Linked DNA regions of Homo sapiens: region 1 is reported to be linked to region 2. The links are microRNA targets in miRTarBase. Many come from high-throughput screens and were not tested one by one. Region 2 holds a microRNA gene; the other region holds the end of a gene's coding sequence.

Evidence for each region. The annotated mature microRNA hsa-miR-4655-5p reads CACCGGGGAUGGCAGAGGGUCG and lies in region 2 at 2,183-2,204, opposite strand. An mRNA with a match to its seed (bases 2 to 7 or 8) in the 3' UTR can be bound and repressed. Matches are read on the target gene's strand: a 7mer-m8 pairs with bases 2 to 8, a 7mer-A1 pairs with bases 2 to 7 and ends in A, and an 8mer does both.
Region 1: the mRNA of TMEM86B is a reported target of hsa-miR-4655-5p. Seed matches in the 3' UTR shown: 7mer-m8 at 2,431-2,437.

The regions. Positions count from the first base shown.
Region 1 is chr19:55,224,538-55,227,926 of GRCh38, forward strand. TMEM86B (transmembrane protein 86B) reads right to left here. Exons shown (of 3, transcript NM_173804.5): 3 at 2,101-3,026. The coding sequence ends at 2,644. Among named protein-coding and RNA genes, the nearest start is that of TMEM86B, 2.5 kb to the right of the region's middle.
Region 2 is chr7:1,842,041-1,845,429 of GRCh38, forward strand. MIR4655 (microRNA 4655) reads right to left here and starts at 2,213; the gene lies at 2,140-2,213. All of the region lies in intron 18 of MAD1L1 (mitotic arrest deficient 1 like 1), which reads right to left. All of the region lies in intron 1 of LOC100127955 (a long non-coding RNA gene), which reads left to right.

The DNA of each region.
Region 1 (3,389 bases), not on the chromosome of region 2:
AGGGCTGGAAGGAGCCTGAGAGGGATGTGCGCAGCACCTCCGAGAGTCCCGCTTTAGAGAAACACGAATCAGATCATGAGAAAGCAGACCTCTGAGAAGTCAGATGAAAGGTCGTCGGGGGACCAGAATCAGGGAGGAGGGACACGACGCTGGGGCTGCTGGATGCCGACAGGAGAGCAGCGTCCCGTCGCTCTGGACTGCCGACCCCACAGAGCCCAGGGACCAAAAGCCAGAATGTTCCCCAAACACCAGGGATTATGGGCCCAGCCCCTCCTCCCTCAGACTCAAGAGTCCAGGCCCCCAGCCCCTCCTCCCACAGACTCAGGAGTCCAGCCCCTCCTCTCCCAGACCCAGGAGTTCGGGCCCCCAGGCCCTCCTCCCTCAGACTCAGGAGTCCAGACCCCAGCCCCTCCTCCCTCAGACGCAGGAGTCCAGGCCCCCAGCCCCTCCTCCCTCAGACCCAGGCCCCCAGCCCCTCCTCCCCCAGACCCAGAAGTCCAGGTCCCCAGCCCCTCCTCCCTCAGACTCAGGAGTCCAGACCCCCAGCCCCTCCTCCCTCAGACCCAGGAGTCCAGACCCCCAGCCCCTCCTCCCTCAGACTCAGGAGTCCAGGCCCAGCCCCTCCTCCCTCAGACTCAGGAGTCCAGGCCCAGCCCCTCCTCCCTCAGACTCAGGAGTCCAGGCCCCCAGCTCCTCCCTCAGACTCAGGGGTCCAGGCCCCAGTCCCTCCTCCCTCAGACTCAGAAGTCCAGGGCCCCAGCCCCTCCTCCCTCAGACCCAGGAGTCCAGGTTCCAGCCCCTCCTCCCTCACCTCCAGGAACCCCTCATGTCTGCAGGCCCCACGTGCCCCTGGAATCTGCACACCCAGACCCCCGTCCCTCCTGCTACACTTCACTGCGCAATTTCCTCTTTCCCCACCTTTCGCCAGGTCTGAGTGGAGAGGGTAGGAGATGAGGAGGAAGTGGAGGTTTCGAACCTGAGTCCAATCCTTCAGATCCTCCTCATGCCTGACCCTTCCTCAAGGAAATCCCTCAGCTTCCACTTCTCCTCACTCCAACTGTGGATTCCTGTCCTCACTTTCCTTCCTGGTCCCCGTCCTCCAGGCTCCCCACCTTCCCTTCCCACCTCTGTACTCTCACATCTGAGTCCCTAAATGCAGGTCATGGATGGAGAAGTCACCTCTCTGCTGTAAGAGTCCCTAAATGCTGGCCATGGATGGAGAAGTCCCCTCTCTGTCGTAAGAGTCCCTAAATGCAGGTCATGGATGGAGAAGTCACCTCTGCTCTAAGAGTCCCTAAATGCAGGTCATGGATAGAGAGGTCGCCTCTCTGCTGTAAGAGTCTCTAAATGCTAACCATGGATGGAGAAGTCGCCCCTCTGCTATGAGTCACTGAAAGCACATCATGGATGCAGAAGTCAAATAGGGTCTTGGAGAGCAGCTTGGACCCTGTCAAGTCTTCAGATGCAGAATCTGAGGACCTGAGGGATAGCAGCTTGCCGAGGTCACACAGCCTTGACAAGGAGCACAGCTGGGTTCCTCCTTCCCATTTGATTCCTACCCCCTTGCCGCCCTCCCTCCTCCAAGACCCCTCATCCTCAAGCCTCCCACCCTTCTCCCGATACTGCATGTGACTGCAGCGGGTTGTATCCCCTAGAAAGATATGTCCAAGTCCTAACCCCAGATACCTCTGCAGGTGACACTACTTGGAAATAGGGGCTTTGCAGACATACTTAAGGATCTTGAGATAGAATCACCCTGGGTTTAGGGTGGGCCCTAAATCCAATGACCTGTGTCCCTAGAAGGATGCGGACACAGAGGGAGGCTGCCAGTTGAAGACAGTCACATGAAGACGGAGAGACACAGCCACAGGCCGATGGAAGCCAGGGATTCCCGGGAGCCTCCAGAAGCCGAGAGGGCAAGGACGGATTCTTCCCTGGAGCCTCAAGAGGGACCATGGGCCGGAAAACACCCGGATTTTGGACTTTGGGTCTCCAGAACTGCAGGAGAGTCCATTCATCTTGTTTCAAAGCATCTGGCTTGGGGTAATTTGTGACAGCAGCCTCAGGAAACTAACACAAAGACCAAACAGTCCTCTTGGCTCAGTTCTGCACAATCCTCACTTTATCCCCCCGAATCCCCCCACCAGAGGGCCATGGAGGGTCCCACTGGGCACCAGGCCTGGTCCATGGGGAGCGACAAAGAACCTTCTGCTGTCATTAACCGCGATGGTTTATCACAATCATGACCCTCCCCGAGGCCTCTCCTACGGTAACAGCAACATCTACGGTTCCACACCCACAGGGAAAACGGATTCAGAGCAGCAGCAGGGGGCGGGCAGGCTGTGGGGCCGACAGTGAACATGGAGGCAGGCTGGTGGCTGGGAGGGCTCCATGTGGGCCTGGCTGAGGAGCCAGGGATCTGGAGTCAGAACCGGGGGAAGGCAGCTGGAACCCAGTAGTGGACTTGGAATTCCGCAAATCGTCCTCAAACGTCTTCAGCCAGAAGCGACGGCGGCAGCGGCGCCTGCAGACAGGCGTCAGGAAGCTTCGCTGCTGAGGGTATTTCTCAGGCTGGGCTGGGCTGGGAGGCCCAGGTCCTTGCAGGAGGAGAGGGCCTGAACACCGGCCCTTCAAGCTCCCTAGTCAGTCAGTCTTGGGCACCGGGCTCCTGAGGGCTGACAGTGTGATGAGGAGCTGGGCAGCATAGTAGGTGGTCATGATCACCAGGTGGGCATGGGGCAGGGGCTGGGCGAAGGTGTCCCAGGCCAGCACGCCATCAGAGAGCGTGAAGAGCAGCGCGCCCCAGCCGGCACTCCCGCCCTGGGCCAGGCCGCGCCACAGCATGGCCATCAGGATCAGCCCATAGGCTGCCACCGGCAGGACCATATCCGGCTCGAGGTGCTGGAGCACAAGGCTGAGGTAGGGGCCAGGGGCCAGGATGATGAGCAGCAGCAGGCCGGGCTGCAGGGGAGAGAAGCCGAAGGCCCAGACGTAGAGGAGGTGGGCGGTGGCAAAGGCGGCCATGCCTGGCGGGAGAGGGGTGGGGTACCAGTGAGGAAGGCCCATCCTGGGAATGGCCCCGAGGTCACCCCTCAGGGCCTAAGAGAAGGACCATCCCAGAGCACCAGGCCCCACCCTGGCCGAGCCTCCTTGCAGGTCTCCCCACATGCAGTGTCCATCCTTGCTCTGCTCAGAACTGCCAGGAGGCCCCACCTTCCCTTGGCCTCCAAAGCCCCATGGCCTCCAGCTCTCCAGCCACTCTGCGCCAGCCACCCTGGCCTGCTGGGCTACAAGCACCTGACACGTCCCTGCCCCGGAGCCTTTACACTCGCCCTTCCTCCACACAGGCATACAGCCCTTCAGCTCTGCCCAAATGTGACTTCCTCAGT
Region 2 (3,389 bases):
GCCTTGTTTTTCGTCTTTGGCAGGGCTGAAAATTTGATCATGAAAGGGAATTTTCTTTTTTTTTCTTAATTAGTACTTGGTAATATCACCAAGCTGTGAGTTTATGGCTTTGTAGATCTTGTGTGTTTGACACTAACTACTCACAAAGGCTTTTAAAGCTGCATTTCAACTCTGCAACTACCATGCCGGTAATTAAGCCAGAGGAAGCGGCGACAGATTTCACTTTTCACAGACACCCTTCCCACCTGTGCTCCCGCTCCGTGTGGCCGCAGCCCCCGTGGCCCTGTGGAAACCCAGCAGCTCCCTGCGGCTCCGGCCCTGGAGGCCTGAGGTGGCCTTGCCTCCAGGAGCCCGGCCTCAGCCGTCACAGCCGGGCTTGGCCCTGCACTTAGGATCCAAAGGGCAACTCTTGGCAGCTGGAAAGGTTCTCCCAGTCCACAGGCCGCCAGAATCCCTTCCGGCGCATGCCTGCCTGAGCTGCCACAATGCCGCGTGCTCACTGGCCCCCCAGGCCTGTCCCAGGCGAGCTGAGTAACTGCAGCCACCTGAGCCCCGGCGAGGGACAGACAGCTATGCTTCTTCAGGTCCCCGAGGGAGGCCTTCGTCCTTCGTCCATCGCTGGGCCCATCATTTACTGAGTAGCTACTGCCTGCAGCTGCAGAGGCCTCCACCTCCCACTCCTCACCTGGGCCCCTGCAAGGCAGCCGAGGCCCAGGGCACGGTCAGGCTGTGTCCTGGAGGGGAGGGTGGGCAGGGCCTCTGAGTGCTGCACAGCTGCGTCCCACATGTCAGCCCCTCGCCCAGCTGGCCCTCCCTGTGGCTCAGCACACGGGCTGCCTTGCGGCTGGTTCCCGGATGGGGAGGGTACACTGCCTGGAGCTCAGGGGCTGGCTGGGGTGAGTCCGAGGCCGGGCTCCAGCACAGCCTTCAAGTGAGGCCCACAGTGGGGCTGCTGGTACTGAAATGGCATCCTGGCTTCCCAGTAGCACATTCCTTGAGTGTGTCAGTCCCTCTGGGGACCATCTGGAGGACGGGGGCTAGAGAGCAGCCCTGGTCATTCTCCACCAAGACCACACATGAGGCCCCGATGGCACAGTGCCGGGATCCTGTGTAATTAGGGTCTGGGTGCCCTCGTTGCCCTACTCCTCTGAAAGCGAGCCAGGTTCACCTTGAACCCTGCAGAATGATGCTCTTTCTGGCGTCTTTCTCTGTCTTCCTGGGCCTTACAGGTTCTTCGGCAGTAAATCAACTAAACGGTAACACTCTTCCCTCCATCTTCCACATTCAGGCAAAGCTGGCCCCGGGGAGCTCCTGCGCAGACGTCCCTCACGGCCAGGGAGGCCGCAATGAAGGCTGAACCTGGGGAAGGGGCCCAGGTGCGGTGTAGACCTCCTCTGTCATCCAGCCCCTCCTGAGGGGGCTTGATGGGCGTCCACAAGTGGGCAGCTTTTCCGCGCTTCCCCGTGTCTGACTGTGCTGAGGGCCTCCTGAAGTGCAATTGGTTAGTCACGGTTTAGTGTTCTTTACTGCAATGCTATTTTAAGATGCAATTAAAACGTCTCATTGCCAAAGTGCGTGCTTCCTCCTGGGGGCCTCCTTCCTAACACGAAGGAGTCAGAAACCAAGGCCGGGAGGAGACCTGAGCTGAAGACTCACTTCTGGAGTGGGCACACTTTGTCCCAGCTCCGTCTTCCTGGAGCACCCAGGAGAGCCCGCTGCAAGAAGAAGCCCCACGGCAGGCCACGTGGAGGCGAATTCACCTCCTACCCAGACAGCGTGGGCAATGCTGAAACGAGCGTGAGCTCCGAATGATTTTAGTGAGGTTCAAACCTCCCCTCGGCTGTCAGCCTCTGAATCTCTTCCACTTCAGCCACGGCCACTCCATGGCTAGGGGCGGGGAGGGGACACTCAGAAGTTTGGTTTCTTCTGAGGGGCCTGAGCACACACTCAGGATGTGAGTGGGGCCGGGAAGGGCAGCAAGTGGAGCCTATGCAGGAACACTTGTGCAAGGCTGCACGGTTTCACTACCACCAGAAGGCAACTAAAAATCCCCACAACTCCAGGTGTGTCCTGGCTGGTGTCACGGAGCCTCACACACGGCTGAACCGCTTAACTCACATCCAGCCACAGAACGGCCTGCCAGGGGCTCCCCGGGGACCTGACGAGGGTCAACACTTTCCCACGACCCTCTGCCATCCCCGGTGTGCCCTTGGGGAGAAGTGTGGTGGTCCCACAGGCCCCCCTGCCAAAACCTCATGCTTGAGGAAGCACTCCCAGTGGACAGGGAGCCCCAGCTGCTGCTGCTGGACAGGTAGGGGCCCAGGGGCACAAGGGGCCACCTCCAGGCTGGGGGGAGACCTGGGGAGAGACGCCGGTTGGGTGCTCCACTGCAGACCCTGACACGCGAGGTGTGGGACATGGACGGCATTCGAGGTCCCACCCCGCTGAAGGAGCTTGACACGGAGCCCTGCAGGGGGCAGAGGCGGCCCAGGGAGAGGCGCAGGCAGGGGACGCAGCTTGGGACGGGCCTACAGCTGGCCCAGGAAGGTGCTCCCCGAGGCTGCCACGTGCCCAGCACCTCCCCTTGGTGACCATCCCCCCAAAGCTGGGGGGAGTCCAGGGCCCAGCACTCCTTTCTCCAGGCTTCCCCCAGGACATCCTGCTGTGGCTTGGCACAGGCCGGGCACTGACAGAGGGGACCCGTCTGGTTGCATCCGATCCTTCGATGCTCCTGCAGGGGTGGAGGGGCGCGTGGGTACAGTCAGCAGGGCTGTGGCCGTACCGTGCAAGCCACTCCAGCACCTGAGCGTGTCCTCCTCTGCGAGTGGGACAGGAAAGCCTGCCTCGCACAGCTGCTGCCAGGACGGAGACAGTATGCTGCTGGTCAGTGAGTGGGCACAGCCAGGGTCACTGTCCCGCCATCAGAAGGAGGACAGGGGTGCGGGGAGGAGGGGCCTGAGCCCGAGGCTCCTGGACTCACAGTGGGCACAGGGTCTGTGCAGCCAAGGCCCCACCTGGCGGGCGCGGGAGGCAGGCCCTGACTGCAGCGGGGAGAGCAGAGCGAAGGGGTCTCCTCTTCCCTCCTAGCAATGCTGTGTGGCTGATACGCTGACCAGCTACTTGACACCTGGCACAGCCTGCTGGGCTCAGGGTGGGGAGACGCATGATTCCTATCTTGTCTGTAGCTTTCCTGAGGCTGACGCAGGGCCCAGCGCTCCGGAGGGAGACTTGATCACACACAGGCAGTGCACAGAATGTCAATGTGGGAGAGGCCGGCGGCTCTGACCTTGGTGTGTTACAGCCCTTGCCACCTCCCTCCGCTGCCCTGCATGGGGACTCAAACCACAAACAGCAGCTCGGAAACAAGCAGACACGCGTCGGACTCTGGT